Linked DNA regions of Homo sapiens. The protein of the gene in region 1 purifies or fractionates together with the protein of each later gene. This does not show direct contact. Each region holds a gene or a part of one and is shown in the gene's direction. Other genes may lie near its edges. The genes, in order: PABPC4, G3BP1, PAIP1 and LARP1.

Region 1 (8,772 bases):
ACTCCAGCCTGGGCAACAGAGAGAGACCCTGTCTCAAAAAGAAAAAAGTAATTTGGGCTGGGCGCAGTGGCTCACGCCTGTAATCCCAGCACTTTGGGAGGCCCAGGCGGGCGGATCACGAGGTCAGGAGATCAAGACCATCCTGGTTAACACAGTGAAACCCCATTTCTACTAAAAAATACAGAAAATTAGCCGGGCGTGGTGGCAGGCACCTGTTGTCCCAGCTACTCGGGAGGCTGAGGCAGCAGAATGGCGTGAACCCGGGAGGCGGAGTTTGCAGTGAGTGGAGATCCCACTACTGCATTCCAGCCCGGGCGACAGAGTGAGACTCCCTCTCAAAACAAAAAAAAAAAAAAGAAAGAAAAAAGTAATTTGAGCGAAGGCACTTTGCTCTTAAAATCCTGCAGCTTTACTCTTTGATCTGAGGATAAAATCCTAAGTGTTTTAAGGCCATCTCTTTCATTTCCCACAACTCCACAGTTTGTCTCCCTTAGGGCTTTTTTTTTTTTTTCAGACAGAGTCTCTCTCAGTCGCCCAGGCTGGAGTGCAGTGGCACAACCTTGGCTCACTGCAACCTCTGCCTCCCGGATTCACATGATTCTCCTCCCTCAGCCTCCCAAGTAGCTGGGATTATAGGCACCTGCCACCACATCCGGCTAATTTTCTATTTTTAGTAGAGACGGGGTTTTACCATGTTGGTCAGGCTGGTCTCAAACTCCTGACCTCAGGTGATCTGCTCTCCTTGGCCTCCCAAAGTGCTGGAATTACAGGCAATTACAGGCGGCAGCCACCACGCCTGGCACTTAGGGCCTTTATAGATGCTGTTCTCCCTGACTTCATTTAGGGACTCCCCTCCTTTCTTTTTATTTTACTTTTTTTTTTTTTTTTTGAGACAGAGTTTCACTCCTGTTGCCCAGGCTGGAGTGCAATGGCGCAATCTCGGCTCACCGCAACCTCCACCTCCCCGGTTCAAGTGATTCTCCAGCCTCAGCCTCTGGAGTAGCTAGGATTACAGGCATGCACCACCACGCCTGGCTAATTTTGTTTTTTTAGTAGAGATGGGGTTTCTCCATGTCCGTCAGTCTGGTATCGAACTCCTGACCTCAGGTGATCTGCCTGCCTCAGCCTCCCAAAGTGCTGGGATTACAGGCGTGAGCCACCGCGCCCGGCCTCCGCCTCCTTTCTTAGTACAAATGTAGCTTGATAGTAATAGCTATTAACATTCATCCAAGGCTGGGCACATGGTGGCTTACACCTGTAATCCCAACACTTTGGGAGACTGAGGTGGGGGCGGATTGCCTGAGCTCAGGAGTTCGCAACCAGGCTGGGCAACATTGTGAAAACCTGTCTCTACTAAAATACAAAAAATTAGCCCAGTGTGGCGATGTATGCCTGTAGTCCCAGCTACTAGGGAGGCTGAGGCAGGAGAATCGCTTGAACCTGAGAGGCAGAGGTTGCAGTGAGCTGAGATCGCACCACTGCATTCCAGCCTGGGCGACAAAGTGAGACATCTCAAAAAAAAAATTAATCCAAACAATTTATGTGTATTTATATGTATTCATTTATTCTCACAATAACCCTTTTAATTGTTAATAAGGTTTATTAGTATAGTTCAGATGAGAAATTTGAGGGTCAGAGATGTGAACTAGCTTGCCCAAAGTAATATAGGTAATAAGCTCCCCCAATAGACAATAAGCTTCAGGAGGTCAGAGCTTGTGTGGGTTTTGCTCATCTGTGCCTAGTATTCATTTGTTTATTTAACAAATATTTAGGCCAGGTGCAGTGGTTTATGCCTGTAATCCCAACACTTTAAGAAGCCAAAGTGGATCGCTTGAGGTCAGGAGTTTGAGGCTGCAGTGAGCTATGATCAGGCCACTGCACTCCAGCCTGGGCAACACAGTGAGACTTTGTTGCTTAAAAAAAAATACATGCAGTGGCTCATGCCTGTAATCCCAGCACTTTGGGAGGCCAAGGTGGGCGGATCACGAGGTCAGGAGATCAAGACCATCCTGGCTAGCACAGTGAAACCCCATCTTTACTAAAAAATACAAAAAATTAGCCGGGCGTGGTAGTGGGCACCTGTGGTCCCAGCTACTCGGGAGGCTGAGGCAGGAGAATGGCGTGAACCCGGGAGGCAGAGCTTGCAGTGAGCCAAGATCGCGCCACTGCACTCCAGCCTGGGCAACAGAGCGAGACCCAGTCTCAAAAAAAACAAAAAAACAAAAAAAAAAATACACAGGCTGGGTGTGTGGCTCACGCCTGTAATCCCAGCACTTGGGGAAGCCGAGACGAATACATCACCTGAGGTCAGCAGTCGGAGACCAGCCTGGGCAACATGGTGAAATCCCATCTCTACTGAAAATACAAAAAGTAGCTGGGCATAGTGGTGGGTGCCTGTAATTCCAGCTACTTGGGAGGCTGAGGCAGGAGAATCACTTGAATCCGGGAGGTGGCGGTTGCAGTGAGCCGACATCACGCCACTGCACTCCAGCCTGGGTGACAGAGCAAGTCTCTGTCTCAAAAAAAAAAAAAAAAAAAAAAAGGCTGGGCGTGGTGGCTCACCCCTGTAATCCCAGCACTTTGGGAGGCCGAGGCGGGCAGATTACAAGGTCAAGAGATTGAGACCATCCTGGCCAACATGGTGAAACCCCATCTCTACTAAAAATACAAAAATTAGCCAGGTGTGGTGGCACGCACCTGTAGTCCCAGCTACTCGGGAGGCTGAGGCAGGAGAATTGCTTGAATCCGGGAGGCGGAAGTTGCAGTGAGCCTAGATCGCAGTACTGCACTCCAGCCTGCCAATAGAGCGAGAGTTGGTTTCAAAAAAAAAAATAGCCAGGTGTGGTGGCGCATGCCTGCAATCCCAGCTACTTGGGAGGCTGAGGCATGAGAATTGCTTGAACCTGGGAGGCAGAGGTTGCAGTGAGCCGAGACTGCACCACTGCACTCCAGCCTCGGTGACAGAGGAAGATTTCATACCCCCCCCACAAAAAAAACAAGAAAACACACACACACACACACACACACACACACACACACACAAACATATATTGAATATTTATTTATCTATTTATTTTTTAGTAACAGAGTCTCACTCTGTTGCTCAGCCTGGAGTGCAGCGACATGATCATAGCTCACTACAGCCTTCAACTCCTGGCCTCAAGCGATCCTCCTACCTCAGACTCCCAAGTAGCTGAGACCACAGGCATGTGTCCCCACACCCAGCCAATTAAAAGAAAATTTTTTTTTGTAGAGATAGGGTCTCACTCTGTTGCCCAGGCTGGTTTCAAATGTCTGGGCTCAAGCGATCCTCCTGCCTCAGCCTCCCAAAGCACTGAGAGTATAGGTGTGAGCCACCTGCCTGGCCAGTTACTGAACATTTAGTACGTGCTATGTTAAGCACTATTCTAGATTCCTGTTCTCATGAAGCTTATATACCAATGTGGAAAAGATAGATACTAAACAGGTAAACAGATATAGAACAACATAATTTTGGGTAGGAATAACAGGCTTGAAGACAAGAAGACAAGTTGGTGTGATAGTGATTAACAATGTTGACGGCTACTTTAGACCACAGGAGGTCTAGGAAGACTTTCCTGAGGAGGGAATCTATAGAAGGAGCACTCCCATAAATGTTCCTTTTTTTTTGAGACGGAGTCTCGCTCTGTCACCCAGGCTGGAGTGCAGTAGCATGATCTCAGCTTACTGCAACCGCTGCCTCCTGGGTTCCAGCGATTCTCCTGCCTCAGCCTTCCAAGTAGCTGGGACTATAGGCACGTGCCATCATGCCCGGCTAATTTTGTATTTTTAGTAGAGATGGGGTTTCACCATGTTGGCCAGGCTGGTCTCGAACTCCTGACCTCAGGTGATCCGCTCACCTCAGCCTGCCAAAGTGCTGGGATTACAGGTGTGAGCCATCGTGCCCAGCCAATGTTTCTTGATTTAATATAGTTATTAGAATATAAACTCCATGAGAGAGGGAGTGACTTCTGGTCCACCATGGTATCTCCAGCCCCTGTATTGACATTGGCATAGAGTAGGCTCAGATTAACCATTTATTTGAATTAATTAATATATAAATACACATATTTCTTTAGTCATTTACTTAAATCAGTGCTTTTGAAGGGGGATGTCTGTGTCTTTTGGCAATTTCTGTTTTTGGTTTTCACAGTGATGGCAAAGGTGGTTCCTGGCACTTATGGAAGAAGGGATGCTATATATCTTGTAATGCGTGTGGACAGTCCCATATAACATAGTCCTATAAAGTGATATGACTTTTTTTTTTTTGAGACGGAGTTTCGCTCTTGTTGCCCAGGCTAGAGTGCAATGGCATGATCTCAGCTCACCACAACCTCTGCCTGCCGGGTTCAAGCGATTCTTCTGCTTTAGCCGCCTGAGTAGCTGGGATTACAGGCATGCACCCCCATGTCTGGCTACTTTTTGTATTTTTAGGAGAGACGGGGGTTTCTTCATGTTGGTCATGCTGGTCTCGAACTCTCGACCTCAGTGATCCGCCCGCCTCGGCCTCCCAAAGTGCTGGGATTACAGGCGTGAGCCACCACGCCTGGCCTGTGATACGACTTTCAAATGACCTGCCAGACTCTCATGCAGATGAAAAGTCTTTTTATAATTATCCAAGCCTAGAAGAAACTTTAAACATAGGAACAGAAAGTATTTCTGTGCCCTTAAACACAAACTAAATGTCCGGGAATGCCACCAGCATGTCAATAGAGGGGATGCTTGTGTTTGGTTTCATTGAAGCTTTACCAAAATGTGCTCATCTTTTCAGAAAATCCCATCACCCATGGATACTGCTTGCATTTCTAGTTCCTGACGATTCTACCTCTAGGTCAACGGTATCCTGAAAACTTCTCAAATCTTTATTGTATTTGGACCCAGACATTTACCTATTGGACCACCTATTATTTTATTTTAACTTATTTTATGTCACCTTCATTTCACAATTTGGCATACCATTTAATTTTTTTTTTTTTGAGAGGGAGTCTCACTCTGTTGCCCAGGCTGGATGGAGTGCAGTGGCACGATCTTGGCTCACCGCGACCTCCGCCTCCCGGGTTCAAGCTATTCTCCTGCTCAGCCTCCCGAGTAGCTAGGACTACAGGCGCATGCCACCACGCCCGGCTAATGTTTTGTATTTTTAGTAGAGACGGGGTTTCACCGCGTTAGCCAGGATGGTCTCGATCTCCTGACCTCCATGATCCATCCGCCTCGGCCTCCCAAAGTGCTGGGATTACAGGCGTGAGCCACTGCACCCAGCCCCATACCATTTAATTTTAAACCTCATGCGTGTGTGCAGGTTAAATGGCTCCTAGGTTCCATTCCCGGGTGATGGGTGGGAGGGTGTTAAGATTTATTTGTTATAGAAAGGGGCCCTGGGGTCTCCCGCAGCCGCGAGCTGGGCGGTCCTCCCGGCGCCAGGGGTCGCTGTAGCGCCGCGCGGCCGCGCCGGGTCGCTCTCGCGTGGCCGCCCCGCCTCGGGCCCCCGGGCCGAGTGGGCGGGCACGACTGCGCCCAGGTCGCGAGGCGCCCTTCGACCAGCAGCGCCCGGGGCGGGCGGGTATAAATGGAGCGGTGGCTCCCTCGGCCGCCTCTCTCCGCCCCGGGTCGCTGCCGCCTCCGCCGCTTTCGGGCTTCGCAGCCTGAGGAAAAAAAGAGAAAAAGATAAAAAAAATCTGAAAACGCTTCAAAATCCTGAAAAAAAAAAAGGAAAAGAAAAAACGAATCCTCGGAGAACCCGCGGGGAAGTCACTTTCGTACGCTTCCGGCCTGCCCCGCGCCCGCCGCCGCAGCGCTTGGCGTCCGTCGGTCTCCGTCCGTCGGTCCGGGGGTGAGCCGCCCGCCCGGCCCGCCGTGCCCTCCCCCCGCTCGGGCCCCGAGCCCCGCGCCCCGCGCCTGCCCCGGCGCACCACGTGTCCGTGCTGCCCTTCGCCGCCCGCCCGGGGCTCGCCGAGTCGGCGCCCACAAAGATTTGGTTTCCCTCTGCCCCGGCGGTTGTAATCTTAAACCGCCGGAGCCCGAGGCCTATATTTATAGAGAAACGCGTGTCCCCGAGGCCGCCGTGGGCAGCGTCCGGTCGCCTCTTAAAGGATTTTTACCCTTCGGAAGGGGATTCCCCGTTTAATTTTTTTCCTACTTTGATTTTTTGAAATTTGGAGCTTCGCACCAGGACCGCGGAGAAGTGCAAAGTCGCGGGGAGGGCCGTATTGTGCGGAGAGCCTTTTGTCTGCGGTGCTGCGGCCGTGGGAGCCGGCCCCCGCCTCCCGTTTCCGTCCCGTCTCCAAGCCCGCCGACTCCAGCTCGTCCTCGCCGCGCCGGTGCCACCTGTGAGCCGCGGCGCGGGCCCGGGCTCCGAAGGCGCCCCTTTGTCCTGCGGCGGGCCCGATAAGAAGTCCTCCTGGCGGGGCTCGGGGTGGTGGGGGGCGGGGAGATGAACGCTGCGGCCAGCAGCTACCCCATGGCCTCCCTGTACGTGGGCGACCTGCATTCGGACGTCACCGAGGCCATGCTGTACGAAAAGTTCAGCCCCGCGGGGCCTGTGCTGTCCATCCGGGTCTGCCGCGATATGATCACCCGCCGCTCCCTGGGCTATGCCTACGTCAACTTCCAGCAGCCGGCCGACGGTGAGTAGAAGCTGTGCCCACACGTGCGTGGGAGCCCGGAGGACCCCGGGAGTCGTCTTCTGGCAGGGCCCTCCTGCCGAGGAGGGCGGCATCACGACAGCATGTTGCCACCGAAGCTGGGAGCAGGGTGCGGAGATTGAGAACGCGGACCTGGCATCAGATGACTCGAGTTTCAATCTTGTTTCTACCACTTGCTAACTGGGTGACCTTGGGCTACTTATTAGTGTTGCTGGTAGTGGGGTTGGAAACCAAGGAGACTGTAAAACAGGATTAGAGTGAAGCCACTGGCATTCCACTGCGTGTGGTCCTTGTCAGTGGGGCTGGGCTGTTAGAGATCCTTGCTTGTGCCCCTCACAGGCTGGCCAAAAAGGCGGGACGTTTGAAACACAATTCCCCGCGAAAGTTTTACATTGTAAAGCTCCTGCCCGCTCCGCCACCTTTACTAACCTTGACTACCTGATGTTGTGCTGATAAAGGATCAGTCAGGGCAGGCAGGAAGCAGGGGGAAGGTTTCTGTGCGTTAAACTTTCGCAGAGACTTAGGTTAGTGCCACAAAAGCTGCGTGTGCCAGGCCACCTCCTTGGTCTGTGTGTTTGCCACTGGAGTGGAGAAGTGCTTTACTCTGGACAAATGGTATCCAGGCTCTGTGCTGTAGAGTGTCGTGGAGGTAGTTTAGGGAAGCGTCACTTGAAAATCTGGTGTCATTTGTCACCTCAGCTGTAACAGTGCTTTGCACTAGTCAGAGCCCTTTTATTTCATCTAATCTGAAGAAAATGGGACTCCTGAGAAGGAGAACGAATGCAAAAAGTTGGAAGCCAAGTTAGGACTCCCAGCACAGTGCTCTGCCACCTCAGATTGTGGCCTTAGCGTGGAGCATGGAGAGAGGTATGCTGCAGGCGTGGCAGGAGGGAGGCCAGAGGAAACCTGATCAGAGGCTGCACGTGACTCCAGATTAAAAGGGAACAACTGCAGAGATCATTACTGGGAGAAACAAGCCATTCTATGGCAAAGCATCTCCAGGTCCCTAGTTTTGGGGTCCCCCCTTTGTTTTCTGTCTGAGGCCCAGAGTTACTACCTGCCCAGGTTGCGGCTGAGACCAGAGAATTGGACATGTTGAGAGGGACTAGGTATTGCTACTGTCAATCCAGTGTGCTCCAAGCTGAGTTCTGTCCATGGCCATAGGAGCGCAAAGGTAGCTGAGTGTGGTCTTTTTAAGGGATAATGTACCACATTAGCTGTTGTCTGCCTTACTGACTTTTGAACAAAAGTCGTGTCACTTAGAGATAGCAGAAGCTATTGGTCAGTGTGTCTGCCAACACATACTTCTGCAGGACTTCTCCCTGCTATAAATAAGTGCAGCCAGATTTGTCAGACTAAGCCGGCTTGCCTTGTGCAGTGCTGTCTGGAAATAGACGAGGAGCTGTTGTTGAAGTGGGCTCCTTTACTGCTAATTAATGAAATAGTTTGCGATCCCAGCTATCTATCTCTGATAGCCATCACAAGCAAAGTCCTCTTTCCCTGGACTGTTCCTGACTTGGATCGGTCTTGTCATCTCCCCTTTTCCCAACTACCCCCCACACAGATGAGGCCCACCTTCTGAAGGGGGTGGGGAAAGTTGTTGGAAATAATGAGTGAAAATAAATTCTCCCGGCTAATGAAACAGTTGAGCTTGTGGAGCGGCAGAGTTGGGGAATTTTGTCCCCCCTTTAAGTGAGATGTTGTCCTGAGGCAAGGAGCAGGTTCCACTGCTCTGACCCTGTCTAAATCCCCTCATGGAGGAGGTTCTGGGTGATGTCACCGTTAGGAGATGCCATCATAGCCTTAAGGAAAAGTGGCCACCAGATCTGGGCATCCTTGTTGCGATTAGTGATGAGAAGTGTTTTGGCTGGCAGGTGGTGTTATTTTTTAGCTTTTGGTTCTTTTTGTTGTTGTTTGTTTTGAGACACTGTTTCACTCTTGCTGCCCAGGCTGGAGTGCAATGGCGCGATCTCAGCTCACTGCAACCTCTGACTCCTGGGTCCAAACAATTTTCCTGCCTCAGTCTCCTGAGTAGCTGGGATTACAGGCACCCGCCACCATGCCCAGCTAATTGTGTATTTTTAGTAGAGATGGGGTTTTCACCATGTTGGTC
Region 2 (7,829 bases), on another chromosome or scaffold:
GAGATTTTGGTAATGTTTGTTTGTGACCTACTTAGAGCAGTTTTTCTTTTGTAACTTATGGTTTTTTTTTTTCCCACTCGTTCTAGTATTTTGCATAGAAAGTGAACGGCAGAAGGCAGTTTTAAGTTTTTGTAAAAGTTTGTGAATTTTATATCGTCCTTAGGACTGATGGGGCTAGTGTTAAAAGATAAAATTTAACATAAAGCTTACATTTGTGACTAAAGCCAATTTTATATTTTTTTTCTTTATTTTTGTCAGTCTGATAAAACTGCCCACTTGGTCTTTTAACATTTTGCAAATTGATTTTTTTTTTAACTTTCAGAATTTAAATAGGCATTGTATGTTTGTTTAATTATATTGTGCTTTGGCTTCCTTGGACGAAACTATTACTGACTTTACAAAGAAGAATGGATAATTGTGGAAGTAGGTAGGTCAAAAAAAAAAAGGAAAGCCTCGCCCGCCCCCCAGTAATTTGTCAAAAGCAAGTGGGAAAAATCTCTGGTAGTGCAGTACTGCCCTTCCAGTACTCCAGTACAAGCCCTGGAGTTGAATTTAGATTCAGCAACTATTATCTTACATGTAGTTGGTGATCACAATGTGGTGGCACACTAGGTTTATAATTTTATATCTCAGAAATCAGCTATTTACTTTTTTTAAAAAAGTATTCTTGGACATCCTGTCTGTCTTTAGTTGGGAAGGTCAAGTTGCAAGCCAGGTGATAGGGTTAAGAGTAGGAATAATTCACACACACGAATAGTGTCTTAATATTCTGTCTTACAAGGTGGAAAGCAATTTCAAAAAAATTGCCCTCACAGCCTGTAGCTTAGTAAATAAGGTCTTTAGGCGACTTTGTGATAGAGTCCCTCTTCTGTCAGGTGGCCAGTCTGTCATGTAATAAGTTCTTGGTATGTGTGTTGTATCTTAGGTACTTAATCAAAAGTAAAGATTAAAGATGATTGACAGAAATTTGGCTTCCTGGATGGTATACACATCTACTTAGTAGGGATGTAATCTTTGGTGGCTATTAACTTCACTGGCTATATAAAGCATCATTATGTATTTGTGTAACCTTTTGCATATTTAGAGAGTGCTTTCACACATCTTTGGTATTACCATACTTTTACTAAAAAGTGAATTGGAGCTCTGAAACCGAATTGTCAAAACTATTTTGAAAAGCATGTGGTACCTAATAGGGTACTATAGCCAGCTTATTTCCTTAATTGAAAAATCTTAGAGGGATTTTGAATCTGGAATGTATGAATGTGACACCTGCCTGCCCTTGCAGGCTTCTCCCATATGCTGTTTATGCAAAGCCATAGGCTGTGCCTTAAGTACACCCTTGTTTCTGCACTGAGGTTGCCTAGATTTCCCTGGAGTGTATCCACCTGTCTTGATCTGTTTAAGAATTTTGCGGATGAGCATTAGTATTAACTGTAACATATCTTTTCACGTGATGAGAAAGAACAAAGATTTTTTTAAATTGTGAACCTGAGTAGGTTTTAACTTTGGAGTGGGGAAGGGATACACTAAGATAAAAGATAGTTGTTAAGTATTCTGATTCCTGAAGTTTTTTTTCTTTCAGGAAAACAGTATTTTTGAGATAAAGTAAGATTTGTGGAAGAGTTGCAATAGAGAGGTCTTGAATACCCATTATCCACTGTTAACATCTTATGTAATCCAAGTACATTTAACAGAACTGAGAAATTAACATCGATAAAATACTGTTAATGAAAGACTTTATTTGGATTTCCTTAGTTTTTCTACTAATGTCCTTTTTCTGTTCTAGGATCCAGTCCAAGATGCCACATTGTATGTAGTCTCCTGATCTGTGTCAGTTTCTGTCTTTCCTTTTGTCTTTCGTGACCATGACACTTGATCTCATTTGGATTTGATGTTAAGGATTAGACTGAAGTTACAGATTTTTGGGGGAAGAATACCACAGAAATTACCCTTATCACATCAGATTGGGGGTCCATAATATATAACTGGTTGAATTTAACCTGATGATTTGGTTCAGGTGGTATCTGTCAGGTTAGTGTTTTTTTCCCCTTTAGATACTATTCCTTAGATGCTAGTCACCAAGTCCAGCTCACACTCAAGGAGAGAGGGGAATTAGGCTCTACTTTCTAGAGGGAGGAGAATGTGAATTTGTGGAAGTATATTAAAGCTACTGTTATTATTTTGGGGGAGATGCTTCGAAGCCATGGAAATAAAGTTCCCCTCCTTAATTTTAGCATTTTAATGGATCTCGTCTGCAGCTATTATTACTTCGGGGTTCTAATGGTGATTTTTTTTATTTTCCTCATTCCTTCTACAGTATAAATTTTCTGTGAGGAAGATTTGTGTATTCTTCATGTTTTTTCTTTTTTTCATTTATATCACTATAGACCACGGATATTAATTTTATTCTTTGGGTTGTAATCCACAATTATCCTTGCTGATGTTTACTTATTTTTGATTATTATTTATTTTATATTTTTATAAAATATCGTCCAGGCTGTCTCACACTCCTGGGCTCAAGCAATCCTCTTGTCTTGGCCTCTCAAAGTGCTGGGATTACAGGTGTGAGCCACTGTGCTGGCCACAGTTTATTTTGTTGTTCATGTTGTTCCAGCTTTTTTTTTTTTTTTTGGCTCCTTTGTCCTTTTGACACTTCCCTATCTTATCTGTTTTTTAAAAGCATGTTTTTTCTTTCATTAATTACCAGGTATTTCAGGCTCATCTTGCATTTTGCCTGTCTCAGGTCCAGAATCAACCATTTCTCCAAGGAGGCGTCAGGAAGAATTGTGAAGGGAGGTGACAGGTGGTAAATGCGAAGAGTTTGGAAAAATAGATTGACAGTAGGCCCAGTGATGTTGATACTTTTCTTGCTCTGAGCACAGATGTTGGCTTCTGTATTCATGTTACTCCAGTTCTGGGAAAAGATTTTGTTTCTAAATTCCCACGATTTAGAGAACCAGATATCAAATGTTTGAATACATGACATAATCCTGAAACAAAATTTACAAAAATTTAATATATTCTCAAGTTAGTACACACAAACACTTGCTGTTTTTCCTTGGTGTTTTTGACAACTTTTTTAAAGTAAAAAGACCACTTAAATACTATCGTACTCAGAATTAACATTTGACATTTTGCATTGCCCTCTAAGACTCCTTTTTTTCTATACGGGCTTCCATTCCCTTCCTTCCAGGGATCTTTTTCACATCTTTCCAGGCTGTTTTATTGATGGGGAATTTTTAAAAATAGCTTTATTGAGGTATAATTGACAATAAACTGCATGTTTTTAAAATGTACTGCCTGATAATTTCAGACACCTTTTGTAATCCCAGCTTCTCAAAAGACTGAGGCAGCAGAGAGGATTACTTGAGCCCAGATGTTTGAGGCTGCAGTGACCTATGGTCATGCTACTGCACTCCAGCCTGGGCGACACAGGAGACTCTTAAAAGAAGGTATACCCATGAAACCATCACCACAATCAAGATTGTGAACCTATCCATTACCCCCAAAAGTTTTCTCATGTCCCTTTTCCCTCTTTCTTGCTTGTTCCTTCCACCCTTCTCCCTGCAGGAAATCCTTGATCTTTTTATCACTGTAGATTACTTTGCGTTTTTTAGAATTTTTTTGTAAATACATTATGTTCTTTTTTTAATTGCTCAGTGCTAGTCTGTTGTGTAGGCATATCACAATTTTTTGGTTTACCTGTTGGTGGGCATTGAAAAACGGCAGAAGCTGTGTGTTTCCAGCTTTTTGACTGTTACAAATAAAGCTTCTGAACTTTGTGTACAAGTCTTTGTATGGGTATACGCCTTTATTTCTCTTGGGTAAATGCTTAATAGGGGAATGTTTAGATCATGTAGTAGATGTATGCCTAACTTTTAAAGAAACTCCCTGTTTTCCACAGTGGTTGTACCATTTTACATTGCCACCAGCGATGTTTGGGGGGTTCCAGTTCTGCCAGTATGTTGGCTAACAGTGTGTATGGTCAGTCTTTTTAATTTTAGTCATTGTGACAGGTGTTTAGTGGTACCTCACAGGTTTTAATTTGCATTTCTGTAATTGCTAGTGATCAGCATTTTTCATTTGGCATTCATATAATTTCTTTGGCGAAATATCTTTAAGTCTTTTGCTCATATTTTATGGGATTGGTTACTTAATTATTAATTTTTTTGTTTTGAGACAGTGTTTCGCTCTTGTTGCCCGGGCTGGAGTGCAGTGGCGCCATCTCTGCTCACTACAACCTCTGCCTCCTGGGTTTAGGTGATTCTCCTGTCTCAGCCTCCTGAGTAGCTGGGATTACAGGTATCCACCACCACACCCGGCTAATTTTTGTATTTTTAGTAGAGATGGGGTTTCACCATGTTGGCCAAGCTAGTCTCGAACTACTGACTTCGGGTGATATGCCCTCCTCGGCCTCCCAAAGTGCTGGGATTACAGGCATGAGAGTACTTTATATATTCTGGATAGAGGTATTTTAAAAATTAGAGATATGGGTCAGGCGCAGTGGCTCACACCTGTAATCCCAGCACTTTGGGAGGCCGAGGCAGGTGGATCACTTGAGGCCAGGGGTTCGAGACCAGCCTGGGCAACATGGTGAACCCTCATCTCTACTAAAAATACAAAAATTAGTCGGGCGTGGTGGTGTGTGCTTGTAATCCCAGCTGCTTGAGAAACTGAGGCATGAGAATTGCTTGAACCTGGGAGGTGGAGGTTGCGGTGAGCGCCACTGCACTCCAGCCTGGGCGACAGTGGAAGATTCCTTCTAAAAAAAAAAAAATCAGTCAGTCAATCAATCAGGTAAATGCCTTGCAAATATTTACTCCTAATCTGTGGCTTGCCTGCGTGCCTTTTCATTCTTTTGATGGTGTCTTTGCAGGGCAGATGGTTTTAATTTTGAGGCAGTCTACGTGATCAATTCGCTTTCTTCTTCATTTGCTTTTGGTGTGTCTAAAATCTTTGCTTAGTGTCATGCAAGTTTTCTTTAGAAGTTCAGTTTTGGGTTTTACACTTTGATTACACTGAATCATTTTGAGTTAAATTTTGTATGTGGTGTGAGACATGAATTGAGGTTCTGGTTTTTTTTTGTTTTTTCCATATGATATCTAATTGTTTCAGTACCAGTTGTTGAAGAGAGTATACTTTTTCCACTGAATTGTCTTTGCACTTTTCTTGGAAATATAGTTGTCCATGTGGATATGTTAGTGAACTCCATTCTGTTTCATGGATCCATTTGTCTCTTTATGTCTAGCCTGTGTATCTATGTACGGTATCTGGTATTTGTGTATACTAAAAACACTTTTAAATATATGTAACGTTATCACACAGTACATATTTGGCAACTGATTTTTCTTTTTAATAATGTTTTTGAGTTATGTGCTCGCTTTCTGGCAGGCATAAATAGGGTGACATATGTCTTGGTTTGCCAGGGACAGTCCTGATTCACTTCAGTTAACCTGACACTATTAATAGTAGTTGTTTTCAATCTTAAAAGTGCTCTCATATGGTTGTCTTAGGTATAGAAGTTTCCCTAATGTGAATAAACCACAACTTAATATCCATTCCTTATTTGATGGACATGTAGATTGTTATCAATGTTATACTTTACAGATAGGGTGGCAGTTATTTGTTTTTGTCTTGTGTGAGTTTGTTTTGTCTTGGGTGAGTTTCTTTTGTATATGTACCTAGAAGAGAACTGCTAGATTTTCATCAGAGTGTTTTTGATTTTATTAGATAGTGCAAAATTGTTCTCCACTGTGGTTGTACCAGTTGAGACTTCATCTTCAGCAGTCCTGTAGGCTCTTTTTTTTACTTGGTTGCCAATGTTTGGTGTTGACTGAGATTTTAATACTTTGGCGCATCTCTTGTAAGGTATCTCCTGTGAGAAGTGATTTTATTAATTGCATTTTCCTGGTTACTTACTCTGTTTTGTTTGCTGTCCATTTAGTACTTTCCTGAGAATTGGCTGCTCCATTTCATTTGCCTGTTTTTCTCTTGGGTTACTCTTTTAGTGATTTGTATGCAGGTTTATATACATTCTACTAATCTTTTATTATATGATATTATATTTTCTTACTATAAAACTGGCACTGAAAATGGGCTATGAAGGCATTTGGCTACTTTTTATTTTGTTGGAGTGAGCTTTGCCATTAAAAATGCAGGTGGAGTATGGGCTGCCTTTATGTTTCCCTGCCCGTCTGTTAAAAATTGGAGGATAATGCTCATAGTTATTTCCCCCTCCGCCGCTAGCTGATGGAGTCTTGCTCATTCGCCTAGGCTGGAGTGCGGTGGTGCGATCTTGGCTCATTGCAAGAGCTCCGCCTCCCGGGTTCACTCTGTTCTCCTGCCTCAGCCTCCTGAGTTGCTGGGACTACAGGCGCCCACCACCATGCCTGGCCAGTTTTTTTGTATTTTTAGTAGAGACGGGGTTTTACCGCATTAGCCAGGATGGTCTCTATCTCCTGGCCTCATGATCGCCCACCTTGGCTTCCTAAAGTGCTGGGATTACAGGTGTGAGCCACCGCGCCTGGCTGATAATGCTCATAGTTCTTTAGACCCTTAACATTTTTCTGTTAACTTCAGCACAATTATTGATGGGGAGTTTCTTTGAAGTTGCTTTGCAATCTGGAAACTTGGGATCAAGTGGAAAATTTGAAAGTTAATGTAGTACAGTTGAACCATGAACAAACGTGGGTATGAACTGCTCAGGTCCACTTGAGCAGATTTTTTTCAATGAATATATTGGAAAATTTTTTTTGGAGATTTGTAACAATTTGAAAAAGCTCACAAACTGAATAGCCTAGAAATAATAAAAAAAATTAAGAAAAAGGTATTTCATGAATGCATAAAATATATGTGGATACTGTTATTTACTACTGTAAAATATACACAAGTCTATTACAGATTTATTACAGAGTTAAAATTTATCAAAATGAACCCACACAAACACTTTGAGACCATTCAGGGCACCATTTGCAGTCAAGAGAAATGTAAACAAATGTAAAGATACAGTATTAAGTTATAACTGCATAAAATGAACTTTAGTATATACTGTACTATAATTTTTTTCCTAGCCACCTCCTGTAAATATTGCAATGTGCTTGTGTTGCAAGTATCTGCTTACAACACTGTGTGATGCTAATCATCTTTATGTGAGCAGTTCTTCTCTCCAGTAAATTTGGATGCAGTAAAAAGTGATTTCTCTTCAATGAGTAGTTTTCATCATGTTTAGTACAATACTGAAAGCCTTGAATAACACCATGGGACCCATACGAAATATCACTAATGATGCTGAAAGCACTCCCAAGAAACAGAAAAGTTATGACATTACAAGGAAATATTAAATTGCTTGATCTGTACCATAGGTTGAGGTGTGCAGCTGTGGTTACCTGTCATTTCAGAGAGACGATTTGTCTTTTAAACAGACAGCATAAACATATACAATACTGAAAATGTATTTTGCAAATGATTTTCTTATTTTCTTTAGCTTTATTGTAAGAATACAGTATATAACCTACAAATAGTTAAATGATTGGTTATATTATTGGTAAAGCTTCTGATCACCAGTGTGCTATTAGTAGTTAAAATTTTGAGGAGTCAAGTTATACACAGATTTTCAACTCTGGGCTATCCATGCCCCTAATTCTCACCTTGTTGAAGGCTCAACTGTAGTTCATCCAAAAGGTAGATACAGTTTTATGTTAAATGCTTGGGATTTTTTTTTTTAACTCCTTTAGGAAATTCTCCATTTTAATCTCTAGGAAAATAAGGAAAATATCCATCCAGGTGACACAAGAGAGTGGGATGTAGAAATGGTTTTCTTCTTTATAGTT
Region 3 (7,829 bases), on another chromosome or scaffold:
GGTCTTTAAAAAAAAGAAAGCCAAACCATAAAATGTCTTGTCTTAGCATTTCTACTTGCCTTTGCTTTCTTTTAAAATTTAAGGATTTCATCTTAATTCCTTGAAAGTCTAATTTAGTCAGTTGAAATTGTTTCATTATACAACATTTAGTTTTTATCCCAGCATATTGGTCATTAACATATTAACGCTTTTTTTTTTTTTTTTTTTTTTTTTTTGATATGGAGTCTTGCCCTGTCTCCCAGGCTGGAGTGCAGTGGCGCAGTCTCAGCTCCCTGCGACCTCCGTCTCCCGGGTTCAAGCGATTCTCCTGCGTCAGTCTCCCAGGTAGCTGAGATTACAGGTGTGCACCACCATGCCCAGCTAATTTTTGTATTTTTGATAGAGACAGGGTTCCACCGTGTTGACCGGGCTGGTCTCGAACTCCTGACCGCAAGTGATCTGCTTGCCTTGGTCTCCCAAAATGCTGGGATTTTACAGACATGAGCCGCTGCACCTGGCCTCATTAATGCTATTTTAAAAGTGAAAAATACAGTAGACAACACTGGCTTAACACAAAATTTCTTAGTCAGTGTGAGACTGGTCAAAAAAAATGGGCCATGATCAGAAATGTAAACTTTAGGTTCTTTAAGTCACTGTTACAAGAGCAACTCAAATTTGGAATATATGGAAGGGAGATTATAATGCAAATTAATGATTATTTTCTATCCTAATGTTTCATTTGGCTGCTTTTCCAAGTTATTCTGGATGGTTACTGGACCCCAAGATTACCTAGCCAACTGTCAGTTTTGAGGAAGTACCTGAGATGTTAGGAAGACAGAACTGCACTGTTTGTCCTCATTTCTGCTTTCTGCTGATAAATGGATTGAAAAGGAATATGAGATAAGAAAATGAAACAAATGTATTTATTTCTTGTTGCCTTTCTGGCTTCCTCCACTATTTAGTTTCAGTTATTCAGTAGGCTGCGTAATTATACTTATTCAGGGCTGGACAAAGGGTCAGTAACCTGATAAGCGTCAACTATTTCTCTGATTGTCAAATATGTAGTCAGTATGTTTAATGTTTTAATATTCTATGATCAATGATGCATAGGTTTATCAATAGCTGCTAAGTTTCATTGAGGTAATTTATGGAAATTTACTCATAGCAACTAACAAACGAGGAAGTATTACAAAAGATGACAGATTAGGCCAGGCGCAGTGGCTCATGTCTGTAATCCCAGCACTTTGGGAGGCCGAGGCGGGTGGATCACCTGAGGTCAGGAGTTCAAGACCAGCCTGACCAACATGGAGAAACCCTGTCTCTACTAAAAAAAAATACAAAATTAGCTGGGCTTGGTGGTGCATGCCTGTGATCCCAGCTACTCGGGAGGCTGAGGCAGGAGAATCGCTTGAACCCGGGAGGCGGAGGTTGCAGTGAGCCGAGATTGCGCCACTGCACTCCAGCTTGGGCAACGAGCGAAACTCTGAATCAAAAAAAAAAAAAATGACAGATTAAATACACATTCAACTCTGATATCTCCCAAACACCACTAAAATGATGCTATGGGGATTTTTAAAAGGCGGAAGCTCATAGGGACAGAGAAGAGGAAAAGAAAAGCACTAGTTTTGAAGACTAGAAAGCAGGTGGGTGAGTGGTACCTGATTTGGCAGATCTAACGTTGAATTCCAAGCCAGTGGTGGTAAAGCTGAGAATCACCATGACTTACAGTGCAAAACCTAAAAGGTTCTAAAATAAGGATGGAATGAGGCTAAAAGGATTGCTTGAGAATCTAAAAAGTTAGACCATCCAGATCTTTTTACACTGAACAGCCGGTTTGAAATTTTGTTGTAACCCTTCTTATGAAATTAACAAAGGACGTACTCTGTCAAAAAGAGGAGTTATGCCACGGATGAAGACATGGGAACCAGGAAAAGGAACTCTACAGGAGAGACTAAGTGAACTGTCCAGATGATGGTTCAAAGGAGATCTCAAAACAATAGCAGCATGCATAGTAGGTCTGAAGCAGCCAGGCTTCACTGGACTAGGTCAGAAGGCTCCAGGAAAGACTTCCGTAATAAGATGAGCACACATGCTGTAAGACATAAGAAGAAATTTACAGAGTAGTGAGTTTAGGGATAAATCAATGAGAAGAATATAAAAGTGTAGTAAAAACTGAATCTAGGGAAGACAAAGTTGTGCAAAAGTAAAAGCAGTGTAATACATGGTTCAGCTATAAATGAAAACACAGCAAATGAATAAAATCATAACCATACTGTGATAGGAGGAAATAGTAGAGTGGGGTGAAATTAAGCAGGGTGAAAGCTAAAAGCTCATCTTCCATGATGGGAAACTGTAAGTTGAGTATCCCGTATCTGAAATGCTTGAGATTTCAAGCATTTCAGATGGATTTTTTCAGATTTAGCATATCCAGTATATAATGAGACACCTCAGGGAGGGTACCTAAGTATATTACAGCTGAAGGGGGTTGACAGGGTCTTTTTTCCTTTGGGGATGCTGAATAAATTATGTGTTGTACACCTGTGTTTTGACTGACCTGTCACATGAGGTCAGGTGTGGAATTTTCCACTTTTGGCATTATGTGGACACTCATATTTTCTGTTTTTGGAGGATTTTAGATTTTTGGACAGGGATGCTCAAGTTGCAGTAAGAAATAACATCTAAACTGAAAAATTACGTAGTGCGGAGATATGGGGATTAAAACATTTTTGGCTGAAGAAGTCAAAAGTGGTTGTCTTTGGGAGTAAAACCGGGATGTAAGTAGGAAACTGTTGAATGACAAGCCTTATAGAACTTGTCTTTAAATCGTGTTATAACACTAAAAAGAAGCTAAAGGAAAACATGCAGTGCCAATAATGGGAAAAATGTAAGGGTGAACCAAGTCTTGGGTACCAGCTAAACATACATGATGTCAGGAGAAATCACTCTTTCTCCCTTAATGTGACATATACTGGCCCCATGTGAGCAAGGAAATAATTAGAAATAAAAGTTAGTAAGTAGACCCAACATATAGAGTCAGAGGGGTAGCAGGACATTTGTTAGATCTAGATTCTATGTTCAATTACATTTGTGGCCAAGTCCCTTAGCTTTTTTTTTTTTTTTTTTTTTTTTTTTAAAAAGATGGGGGCTTTGTTTTGTCACCCAGACTAGAGTGCAGTGGCGTGACCACAGCTCACTGCAGCCTTGAACTCCTACACTCAAGTGATCCTTCCACCTCAGCCTCCAGAGTAGCTGGGACTACGGTGCATGCTACCGTGCCCAGCTAATTTTAAAATTTTTTTATAGAGATGGTGGTCACACTGTGTTGACTAGGCTGGTCTTGAACTCATGGCCTCAAGCGATCCTCTGGCCTTGGCCTTCCAGAGTACTAGGAATACAGGCATGAGCCACTGTGCCCGACTTCTTAACCTTTTAATGTGTGTTTTCTTACCTAATATTAGATGGTAAACTATGTTCTCTACTATTCTTTAGAAATTGCAATTAAAGTTAAACTTGCTGAACACTGCTTCAGTTATATCAACAATCTTTGATGTGTAGTGTTTTCTTACTTTTTTTTTTTTCTGTTTTTAAGTAGCTTAGCTGTTTTCATTTCCCCTTTACCCAATCATTCTTGGAGTGTTTAAGTGTTAGTTGCTTGTGCCAGTTACCATTAATCACCTCTTTAAAGTCTAACTGAAGCTCAGGGAGGTTTACTGATGTCCAAAGTCATGAAGCAAAATGCCAGGGAATCTTGTCCTGGACTGCCAAACACTAAAAAGTCTGTGCTTTCCTGCCCCAAGAAGCCCCACTGGTCAACAGTTTGGCAGTATTCTCATTCATAATTGTCACTGTGCAGTTGAGGACATGTACAGGTTTTCTGCAAAAAATGGGTTAGCATCAGGAGACATTATCTCTTCGCTTTCTGGTAGCCTCAGGTAACTGATGGGTTTTTTCTTTTTTTTTTTTTTTTTGTACTTATTGTGGTTCTTGCTGTAAGGTTGGGAGGGAAAGTGAATTTAATTTCCTTAAGCCTAACAATGACAAAAGACTTGTATATATGGTCAGTTTGGGGAGTCAATTTTTTCTTCTTTAGAATGTTGCTGTTAAGTATTTACATTAATAATGATGTACCTATGTCATATAACACTTTTCTTCTTTTTAAAAGGCCACATCTATCCCAAATTTCTCTTATATGGGAGCTCGCCTGTGTAATTACCTGTCCCATCATCTGACAATTAGCCCACAGAGTGGCAACTTCCGCCAATTGCTACTTCAAAGGTCAGTGTAAATGTGAAATTAAAGGAAAACTACTTCTAAATATACTAGAATTTGACCATTCCTCAGACCATATATTATAAAAAGCTGCAGGAAAGAATAGGGCAGCCTATTCTTATGTGCATTATATTTGAAGTTTATAGTTCAGTATACCAGTCTTTTTTCTGTAATGGTCTGTGAATTTGGTTTTGTGTTTAGAAAGATCTTTCCTTTTCCAAGATCTTAAAAATAAACACTTATGTAATTCTTATTACTTTGGTAGCTTTGGTTTGAATAAGGATCTAATTTTATTTAGATTAGAATAAAAGTGAATAATCCATTTTTCCTTATTGATTTGAATTGCCACTTTTATCACACTTGCATTATTTGGGTTTTGATTCTGGATTTTCATTCCATTTATCACTTATTCTGTTCCTTTTTATTACCATACAATTCATACAATAGCTATTAAAAAGCTTTTTTTTTTTTTTTTTGAGATGGAGTCTCACTTTGTCTCCCAGGCTGGAGTGCAGCGGCACGCTCTTGGCTCACTGCAACCTCTGCCTCCCACAGGTTCAAGTGATTTTCCTGCCTCAGCCTACCCAGTAGCTGGGACTACAGGCACCCGCCACCATGCCCGGCTAATTTTTGTATTTTTAGTAGAGACGGGTTTCACCATGTTGGCTAGGCTGGTCTCAAACTCCTGATCTCATGTGATCCACCCACCTCAGCCTCCCAAAGTGCTGGGATTACAGGCATGAGCCACCCTGCACTGCCAAAAGCTATCATTTTTAAAAATATCTTAGGGTAATTAGTTTTTTGTTCTTTTGTGGGATTTTTTTTTTTTTTTCCGAGACCGAGTCTTGCTCTGTCACCCAGGCTGGAGTGCAGTGGCTCAGTCTTGGCTCACTGCAACCTCTACCTCTGAGGCTCAAGCGATTCTCGTGCCTCAGCCTCCCCAGTAGCTGGGATGATGGGTGCGTACCACCATGCCCAGCTAATTTTTGTATTTTTAGTAGAGATGGGGTTCACCATGTTGGCCAGGCTGGTCTCGAACTCCTGACCTCAAGTGATCCGCCCACCTCAGCCTCCCAAAGTGCTGGGATTACAGGCGTGAGCCACCACGCCCAGCCTGTCAAATATTCTTTGCTATGCTTGTTTCGTCTAATGAACTTTAGAATCAGTGTTTGAAATTACACAAGTCTTGCTAGTATGTTAGATATTTTGGAGATAATACTCAATTTATAAGCTAATTTAGAGAAAACTAGTTTTCTTATAATTTGATGTCTTCAGTAACAAGGTTATCTTCAAGTTTATTATAGTTCGTCCATTAGTTTTTTAAGTGACTTTTAATGATTGCAAAGCATTCCATTGTGTGGTTAAACTGCAGTGGAACAGAATAAAGATTCTAGAAGTAGACCCCAGAGACCCTTGAAAATTCAAGCTTTTGATAAAAAGGATAAATTGTGCTGGTAGCATAACTGGATAGTCATTTGGGAAAAAAAGATGAGTTCCCATCTCACTCTCTGTGCTGAAATCCCAAATATGTCAGAGACTTATTAAAAGTGAAATGATAGGTGGGGCACAGTGGCTCATGCCTGTAATCCCAGTACTTTGGGAGGCTGAGGTGGGCGGCTCACGAGTTCAGGAGATTGAGGCCATCCTGGCTAACATGGTGAAACCTCATCTTTACTAAAATAACAAAAAAAAACCCTAAAAATACAAAAAAAAAAAAAAAAGCTGGGCGTGGTGGCGGGTACCTTTAGTCCCAGCTACTTGGGAGGCTGAGGCAGGAGAATGGCGTGAACCCGGGAGGCGGAGCTTGCAGTGAGCAGAGATCGCGCCACTGCACTCCAGCCTGGGTGACAGCCAGACTCCGTATCAAAAATAATAATAATAATGAAAATACTTGGAATAGCGCCAAATAGATATAGATACAGTTTGGAAAAATACAAATGTCAAAGTTATAAAAAGATATCTAACCATACTTATAATTAAAGAAACACAAATTATAGCTTCTGTAAAGATTCAGAGTGGGTACTTGTAGGCGGTAGGACGCCAGGAATGCTCACTCATATTTTTCAGTGCTTCTCACCCCCGGCTGTGCCTTAGAGTTACCTAGATACTTAAAGCCGAGATCCTGTCTGAACCCTTTGAAATTCTGGTGTAATTAGACGAGGTGGAGCTAGGACATGGTTTTTTAAAGCTTCCCAAGTGATTCTACTGTATAGCTATGATTGAGACCCACTCTTCTCATTGACTGTTACCCACCATATGTGCTTCTGTAGTACTGTAATCCTGTCAATAATAATGTAGAGAAATACTAGTGAGCTAACAAGTAAAAAGCAAAGCATAATTCTGCTACCTCTTTAAAAAATATATACATACTTTGAAAAAGATGGAACGGAAGTTACCTTCACAGCAGTTATCTCTTGTTTTTAGTAGTAGTGCAGGTGACTTTGTTCTTTATACTTTTTCTGTTTTAACCTTTCCAAAATAAACATACATTGCTTTTATAATTGAAAATCTTTAGCTTAAAAATTTGACTTTTCACCTAGTCAATTATGTAGGTATTTGTTTGCATGTACATAATCATATCCTAACGTACAGTCTGTCATAGCATTTTATGAAAAAAAAAGTTATTTCATCAACTCTTACCGACAAAGTTGTAACAGAAAAGCAGCCAACAGGTGTTTTTAAATAACTGATTTGGCATTAATTAACTGATCTCTTCCATTATTAACCAGAATGTACTATCTATAAATATCCCAACTTTTTTCTGATGAGGAATTTAATATGTACAAGATGATAACAAATATCTTACCACATTTGACTTAAACAGAAGATGTTGCTCAGTTAATATACCTCGTAAACATTGGAATTGGCCACGTAAGCACAGTAAGCTGTGCTGGGGTTTCGTGGTTGGCAAACTGACCCAGAGTCAATTACTGAACAAGAGGTAATTTATTTTTTCTTTGTTAAAAATTGTTTACAAAGTCAACCTAAACTGGCTGCGTGGAAACCATTCAGTACCCATAGCTTTTCCCTTTGTCTTGAAAAGGAAAACTGTCAAAACCAGTTTTGTGAAGCAAGTTACTTTCCCAGAGTTTTCTCACCTTATCAATAAAGATTACAAATACTTAATAACAAAATGATAAACTTTTACAGTCCATTTAAAAAATCTATGTTAGTAACAATATCTGACACTGTAGTTCACTTATGAAGGCAGTGACAGGATTATTGTGCCTAGTTTAGTTACCTTGTAGGAACTATGACTGACAATAAGCTCCAAGAAGAGGATTTCTTCTTTTTCTCCTCTGTGTGAAGCAAATGGGTCAAGTCAGGGGCAAAGAGAGCAAGGAAAAATCAGTTATTTGAAGCTGTCAGTCTCATTGGAAATAGAAAACAAGTCCGGTGCTTTCTATATTGTGGTTTTAATGGGGGAATTTTTTCCTCACATTAGTACTTCTCTGATACGTATAATGGAAATTACAAGAATAATGGACTTAAAAACAATTCATTTTATTTTCAGTTGGAGGTTGTGTGTGTGTGTGTGTGTGTGTGTGTGTGTGTGTATTTAAAGATCCTTTTCAAAGTTG
Region 4 (7,720 bases), on another chromosome or scaffold:
CTGCCTATGATGCTGAGTACCCACCTTACTTTCTTTTCTGAATTTCAATTGCCTTCCTTTGTAATTTGAAGACAATAACCATTCCAGGACCTAGCCTGTAGTGCCTGGCACATAGTAGGGGCTCAGTAGACATTTAAGGAAATAATAACTATCCCACTGGGTTATTATGAAGATTAAATGAGATAATGAATATCAAGTATTTCCCATAGAACCTAGCGTACACTAGTTACCCAATAAAAGTAGCTACTCCTGACTATTTGGTCATTACTCCTGACTATTTGGTCATTACTAAATGGTCATTACTGACTATTTGGTCATTACTAGTCCCCTCTTATCTGTGGTTTTGCTTCCTGATGTTTCAGTTACCTGTGGCCAACTGTGGTCAGAAAATATTACATACAATAAGATGTTTTGAGAGAGAAAGAGCACAGTCACATAAATTTTATTACTGTCTATGGTTATAATTGTTCTATTTTATTATTTATTGTTGTTTATCTCTTACTGTGCCTAATTTATATATTAAACTTTATTATAGGTAAGTATATATAGGAAAAACATAGTATATATAGAGTTTGGTACTATTTGGGGTTTCAGGCATGCACTGGGATAAGGGAGGATGACTGTATTTAGAAATATATGCATATAAAATACCATAGTTGGTTAGGAATCAAAAAAACCTGAATTCAAATCCCAATTCCATCATTTTTTTATTAAAACTTAAAAAAAATAGAGACAGGGTCTCACTGTGTTGTCCAGGCTGATCTCTAACTCCTAGGTTCAAGTGATCCTCCTGCTTTGGCCTTTCAAAGTGTTAGGATTACAGGTGTGAGTCACTATGCCCAGCCCCAGTTTCATTATTTTAATGTAGAAAAAACTACTGGATTTAGGATAAAGAGATTCAGGTATGAGACCTAGCTCTGTCTGGCTCTGCTGTGTGACTTTGGATAAGGAACTTTACTTTTCTTTTTCTTCCTTTTTCTTTTCTTTTCTTTTTTTGAGATGGAGTTTTGCTCTGTCACCTAGGATGGAGTGCAGTGGGGTGATCTCGGCTTACTGCAACCTCCGCCACCTGGGTTCAAGCAATTTTCATGCCTCAGCCTCCTGAGTAGCTTGGATTACAGGTGTGCGCCACCATGCCCAGCTAATTTTTGTATTTTTAGTACAGACAGTGTTTCGCCATGTTGGCCAGGCTGGTCTTGAACTCATGACCTCAGGTGATCTGCCTGCCTCAGCCTCCCAAAGTGCCGGGATTACAGGTTTGAGCCACTGTGCCCGGCCTTGGACTTCACTTTTCTGAACTTTGGTTTCTTCATCTGCAAAACAAGGAGAATGAGTAATCATTATGATTCCTTTTTCCAGTTCTAACAGCTTCTAAGCCTAAGATGTTGTCTCGGCCGGGCATGGTGGCTAACACTTGTAATCCCAGCACTTTGGGAAGCTGAGGTGGGCAGATCACCTGAGGTCAGGAGTTTGAGACTAGCCTGGCCATTATGGTGAAACCCCATCACTACTAAAAATACAAAAATTAGCTGGGCATGGTGGCGGGCGCCTGTAATTCCAGCTACTCAGGAGGCTGAGGCAGAAGAATTGCTTGAACCCGGGAGGCGGAGGTTGCAGTGAGCTGAGATCCCACCACTGCACTCCAGCCTGGGCGACAGAGTAAGAGTCAAAAAAAAAAAGATGTTGTTTCACACAGGTCTCTTACTTTCTCTGGCCCTAGTTTGTCTCTCTCTGGGGCAGAGCAGGCCCAGGGTAGGCAGATCTCAGTACCCCTCCACCCTCTACACAGCAGGGCCTGGCCATGCTTGTTCAACCCTGTTTCTGACTGCTGAGTAGCATGAACGAGTTTCTTGTCCACACAGTGCCCTCGTACCCTCACGAGTTCTCAGGGGTCAGGGGAGGGTACTTCTCTACCTCCAATTACAAAAAGAACAACTAACAATAATAATTATGTCCCCTATTAACAAAGTTTAGAGAGGGTCTAGAGTGAATAATCTCTTCAGGGATTACTTATCAATAAATTTGTAAAAATAAAGCTGTGCATGGTGGCACGTGCCAGTGGTCCTAGCTACTTCGAAGGCTGAGGTAGGAGGATGGCTTGAGCCCAGGAGTTTGAAGCTGCAGTGAGCCATGATCACAATGACTGCACTCCAGCCTGGGTGACAGACCTCATCTCTTCAAATAAATAAATAGTGCATTTCAGTGGCAATGTGCAATAATTTACCTTCTGATTAAGAGTACATGTAATGAACTTAGTAGATTCCTGGTTTAATTCATTGAGTAACATTACCTTCCTTGGTAGCTCTTTTGACGTACTGGCTTGTCTATAAAATTTACACAGCACCTTGACTAACATTGTCTCACTTGACCTTCACATGAGCTCAGAGGGTGGAAGCAAGTCAGGCATTATTTACCCCCATTTTTCCACCAGGAGAGGGGTCCAGGGAAGTGCGGCTAGCTGGCCAAGGCTTGGAGGCTGAATAACCCAAGAGTTGGAAGTAGACATGGCATTACCTGGCTATCCCTACCAGTACTTCTCCCCCATACTGGTTACAACAATCCTACAGCTCAGCTTTGCTGGCTGGGGCAGTTCCAAGAGGCTTTTCATTCAGTCTTCTCCTAGATCCAGCAGGTCGTGTGCTCTAATTCTTGTTTTGGAGATGGCCAACATTCCAGGCTGTTATGTTATGTGAGCACGTGGGATCACAGCCAGTCAGAAGCCAGGACTTCTCCAAGTGAAGTCATAAGCACCAAAGGGATCTTGCTAGACACGCAGATTTCTGGGTCCAGTCCCAGACCGAGCCTGATTCCTAATACTTTGGCATCTGCGTTCAAAGAAGTCTTCCCTTATCACCCAAACAAAAGTAGCCCATCTAGTCTAACTGATTACCACAGTTTAACTATTGTCTTCATAGATACTAGACAATAATTTATTACTTGTTTATTGTCTCTTTCCCCACCTTAGAATAAATTCCATGAGGATAGGGACTTTGTTAGCCTAGTTTATACCAAACCCGTTTCCTAGAACCCTGCAAGGCCCCCACAGTACGAGGTCAGTAAGTATTGAATCGAATGTACACTGAAGTTTGAAACTGCTGTCATACACTGCTCCTTCATTTTACAATAGAGAAACTGAGGCCCACGAAGCTGGAAGTCACTGCTGCAGAGATGGTAAGGGGGCAGGGCCAGGATAAAATCTCAGATCTCAGAAGTCCCAATCCAGGGACGGTTCAACTCCGCCCAAAGCAATTCTTTAGAAAAAAAACGACATCCACTTGAAAGAAAAGACATTTCCTGCCCATAAATACAAGGTTTCGCGGCGGGGAGAAGGGCCTGGCCTGGGTGAGGGCTTTAGTAATTCCGTTCCCACTTCCTAGGCGCCGGCTGCCCGCAAGGGCTAAAGACTCGCTTTCCAGGCCCGGAGTTGAACCCATCTCCGGGTAGTGTCGAGGCCAGGCCCAGCGGCGGCGAGGCGCGGAGCACAACCCACTGAGGTGCGGACGGCTCACCCAACCAAGGTCACCCGGGCGGGGACCGAAGGGGCCAGGCCCGCCGGGCACAGGGGAGGGGGCGGCGTTGGCGCGTCCTCGGGGCGGATGAGGGTCCTCCCTTCGGCCTCCTAGAAGTCAGGAATGACACTAATGGCTCCTTCCCCTGAATCTGACACCCAGCCTAAAGAGCACGAGCAGGCCCGGCAGGCCGCGTGGCCGGGTCCCATGTGCTCCACCTGAGGCCGCTCTCACGCGCTGGCCCTTTAAGATACCTCCCCTCCTCGCCCAGCCTTCTCTCCTATCCCCGTCAGCGCCCCCACCGACAACTCCCGAATTGCATCAGGCACGTGCTCGCCCCCGTCCGGTCTGAGCGTCCCTACCCCCAGCCCGGGAGGTGCTCTGAGGAATCGGAGACGAGGGGCGGGGCGAGGGGCAGGACCGCGTAGCCGTGCGCGCGCCGTCCCGCCGCCTCCTGCCCGCCCGTCGCCCAGGGCCCGGCCAGCGGCGCGCCCCCGCTGCGCCGTCCCCTCCCCTCGCCCGCCGCGTCGTGAGGCGCGCGCCCGCCCGCCGCCTGCCGCGGATCGCGTGGTCTGCTTGGCTCGCCGCGCCTCTCCCCCGTCCGTCCATATTGCTGCAGCCCCCGAGCCGGGAAGCCCGGGCCGCCCCGGGGGCGGGGGGGAGGGAGGGACGGGACTAGAAGCCTGCCGGGCTCGGGGTGGGGGCGTCTTGCGAGGAACGGGCGGGGGGGGACGCACGCCTAGGAGGCCTGGACTGCAGAGTGGGGGGCCTTCCTCCCCCCCCGCCCCGCTAGTGGGCCTCGGATTTACGGCGGCTGCATCTAACTGGGAGGGGGCCGCACCTCGCGTGAACCCCGACCCTTCTCTGCAGGGACTGGGGCCCAGCGCCCCGGAGGAAGGCGTCGCGGGCGCTCTGCTAGCCAAGTTCGAGGCGGGGGAGGCAGCCTCGGGCGCGCCCGGCTTCTCCGGGGGGGCGGGCGCGCAGATGGCCACTCAGGTGGAGCCGCTGCTGCCTGGGGGCGCCACGCTCTTGCAGGCCGAAGAGCACGGGGGGCTGGTGAGGAAGAAGCCGCCGCCGGCGCCCGAGGGCAAGGGCGAGCCCGGGCCAAACGACGTCCGCGGGGGGGAGCCGGACGGCAGCGCTCGGAGACCCCGGCCGCCCTGCGCCAAGCCGCACAAGGAGGGCACCGGGCAGCAGGAGCGCGAGAGCCCGCGGCCGCTGCAGCTGCCCGGCGCCGAAGGCCCGGCCATCAGCGACGGGGAGGAGGGCGGCGGCGAGCCAGGCGCTGGCGGAGGAGCTGCCGGAGCCGCGGGCGCGGGGCGCCGGGACTTCGTGGAAGCCCCCCCGCCCAAGGTGAACCCGTGGACTAAGAACGCATTGCCGCCGGTCCTGACCACCGTGAACGGACAGTCCCCCCCAGGTGGGTCTCCCTCCTTGCCCTCCTGGGTCCGGGGGCCTCTTCCGGGGACATGGGAGTCCCCTCCCCCAGCACCTCCAGGGCCCCGGGGTCTGCTACCGGTCATGGTGACTCGGGACTTTTTAAAATTGCCTCCTGGTTGATCCTGGTCGCCGCGCCCTCCCCCCCACCGTACACTCAGGGACCTGCCCCTGCCCGAGGGCCCGGCCTCCGGGAGGCTACGGCCACCGCCTGGGCCGCAGCGGTTAGTGGGCAACGGTGTGGTTCGGGCCTACCTCGTCGGCAGAGGGTGGGCGCTGGTTTCAGTGAAACGATCCCCACCGCATGCTGGTGTAAGAGACGGTTTCTGGTTTGAACCTTCCTCTGGAAGCCCCTCTTCCCACCCCGCCCGGCGCTCCCCGTTTTGGTAGCGTTGCGAGCGTCCCCATGTTGTAAATGTTTAATGAGCATATGTCACGGGCAACCCAGTGCCCGGCGCGGAGTACATGCTGGCCGCACGGATGCGGGGATTAAAAGTTAACAAGTTTTGTTCTCGGGGAGATGAAATTGGGCTTTAGAATCGCCATTTGGAGACGGGTTGAGGGGTCAGTTGTGGGGAGAAGAAACCCATCGTGTCATCGAATTCGGTGGTTTCCCTCCCCGATCCCGGGCACCTTCCGCCTTAAGAAGGAGCCCGATGGCGAGTGTGCTGGGGGAGCCAGTTAGGAGGTTGGCGGAAAATGTGAGGCGGGTGAGGGGCCTGCGGCGACTTGAGGGGCGTGTGGCGGCGGGGGAGGGAGTGGCCGGCCTGGGCGGGCGGGTGACAGTTGGGCGCCATGCGCCGCGCCGGCGGCCCGCGGGCCGCTCGGCCTCGGCGTTCGGTGCGGGCCGCGGCGCTGGGGGTGGCAGGAGGGTGCGGGCCCGCGGCGCGGCCCGAGTGTGCGTGTGCGCGGCGCGGGTGTGTGCGCGTCCCCCCTTCCCAGCATTCCTCTGCAGCCGGGACAACGTGGTGCCTCCCCGCGCGGGGAGCGGCATGTGACTGCCGACCGGCGCTCCGCGAGTCCTCCCTCTCCCTCCTCCGCGTTTTGGTCCTTTTGGACCGTGCCCCTTTCCGGGGGGAGGTAAGGGGTGCAGGAAATCCCAGCAGAGCCGTGTCAGCGTGGGGGGAGAGGCGGTGCAGAATATGGAGTCTGCTCTTGCATTGCCTTTGCCGAGAATAGATCGTCGGCTTGGGTGGGGGGGGCGCGCCCACTCTCCTCTCTCGGCCGGCGTATAGGGCGGGTCTCCATTCTTTGGTTTTGGGTCCGTTTGTGGTGGGTCGGTTTTAAAATTGTCTTGCAGTTGGAATGATGGCCTCTGGTCGTAGCCCTGGTGCTTTTAAAAAACTCACCTGCCGTAGCTGGTTGAGGCTAACTGGTTTAAACCATCAAAAATAAAGGGGGAGCTTAATGTCTTCACCGTCAAAGGAGTAGAAGCACTGCTAGTCCTAGGGAAGCCAGAATAGCCAGTCCTGAAAACAGCATGTTGCAATTTTTATTTCTTTTCAGGTTGCTTCATTTGGAGGAGGGGACATTTGGGGTTTACTAACAGTCCTTCATACTGTGTTCTCTTCCTTCCCCCCTGCTCCCCTTCCCCCCTGCTCCCCTTCCCCCCTGCTCCCCTTCCCCCCTGCTCCCCTTCCCCCCTGCTCCCCTTCCCCCCTCCTCCCCTTCCCCCTTCCTCCCCTTCCCCCCTCCTCCCCTTCCCCCCTTTCCCTTCCAGAGCCCTTTTATGCAAAAGACAGTGCTGAAACCTCCGTTTTCTTTCAGTCCCTCCTATCCACCCACAGAGTGAAGGAAAACAACTTTAAAACACTCTTTGGTCCTTCTCCCCTCTTTAAACTCAAAAGGGTATAATCATCCCCGGGAGAGAGCACTCCTTTTAAATGGGGCTACTCATCCTGGCTTGGCTAATGGTGAACCTACCTTGTGGGTTTTAAATCAACCGTGACATCAGGTGGTATTGGGTGCCTGAGCTGGCATTTTGTGTAAGTCCAGGAGCCCTTGATAGTGTGCGTCACTGGGGTTATTGATCGTGGGAAGAAGACAGCTTGGCTGGCATCTCACCTTTTCCTCTGAGTGGAGAAGCTGACTTGCTTTAAGTGCCCAAAGCAAAATTCTGAGTAAGGGTAGATTTGCTCTGTTATTGTTTTTTGGAATCTTAAGGCAAGAGAGTGTCTACTTGTTGGTTTAGAACCTTTGGAATAGGTTTTGACAGCCTAACTCAAGTTAATCCAGTAGCTTCTCTCTCTAAGCCTGTTGTTAGGGTTTGTGTGCATTTTGAGAGAGAATTCTATGATTGGGTTGTCAGTCTGGTAAGGCTAGATGATGACCCTTTCTCTGGAGCCTACGTGGATCTCTGAAGTGCTTTTCCAGCCCTGGTTTTATTTACAGCTTCGACAAATTTAAACGTGACACTAGTGGAGTGGCTGTGTGGTCTTGGGAATTTTTGTGTTCTGTGATGCACATGTTTTTGGGAGTCTACAGAAATGAGTACCTCATAAGCAAACTAAAAGCTTTCCAAAGCTTGCTGTAAATGCCTATTTTTAGCCTTACTTTTGGCTCAAATGTTGGTGTTTTAGTTCTTTAAGGGACACATGCAGTAACTAGTAATAAAATATGTTTCGTGATATCTCTACTTTCTTGTGGGGTTCTGTATTCTGGTTTAAGCGTCCAAGTCTTACATTTGTAGTTTTAAGTCTTGGGATTTGCATTTTGGTTTTTTAGATCTCCCTCCCTCCCCAGAGTATTTTTAAATGTTTAAAATTTTTGTCTTA

What was found.
Region 2: the proteins of PABPC4 (region 1) and G3BP1 purify together in Homo sapiens (affinity purification with mass spectrometry; 4 studies listed by BioGRID and IntAct, with this or other methods). This does not show direct contact.
Region 3: the proteins of PABPC4 (region 1) and PAIP1 purify together in Homo sapiens (co-immunoprecipitation; 3 studies listed by BioGRID and IntAct, with this or other methods). This does not show direct contact.
Region 4: the proteins of PABPC4 (region 1) and LARP1 purify together in Homo sapiens (affinity purification with mass spectrometry; 3 studies listed by BioGRID and IntAct, with this or other methods). This does not show direct contact.

What each region holds. Positions count from the first base shown.
Region 1 is NC_000001.11:39,573,628-39,582,399, reverse strand, and holds the start of PABPC4 (polyadenylate-binding protein 4), read left to right. Parts: upstream 1-5,609; 5' UTR 5,610-6,448; coding exon 6,449-6,641; intron 6,642-8,772.
Region 2 is NC_000005.10:151,774,283-151,782,111, forward strand, and holds part of G3BP1 (ras GTPase-activating protein-binding protein 1), read left to right. Parts: intron 1-7,829. UniProt on the Homo sapiens protein: Protein involved in various processes, such as stress granule formation and innate immunity. Plays an essential role in stress granule formation.
Region 3 is NC_000005.10:43,539,429-43,547,257, reverse strand, and holds part of PAIP1 (polyadenylate-binding protein-interacting protein 1), read left to right. Parts: intron 1-4,141; coding exon 4,142-4,254; intron 4,255-7,829. UniProt on the Homo sapiens protein: Acts as a coactivator in the regulation of translation initiation of poly(A)-containing mRNAs. Its stimulatory activity on translation is mediated via its action on PABPC1. Competes with PAIP2 for binding to PABPC1.
Region 4 is NC_000005.10:154,751,265-154,758,984, forward strand, and holds the start of LARP1 (la-related protein 1), read left to right. Parts: upstream 1-4,112; 5' UTR 4,113-4,493; coding exon 4,494-4,929; exon of another isoform or gene 4,930-5,258; intron 5,259-5,889; exon of another isoform or gene 5,890-6,026; intron 6,027-7,720. UniProt on the Homo sapiens protein: RNA-binding protein that regulates the translation of specific target mRNA species downstream of the mTORC1 complex, in function of growth signals and nutrient availability.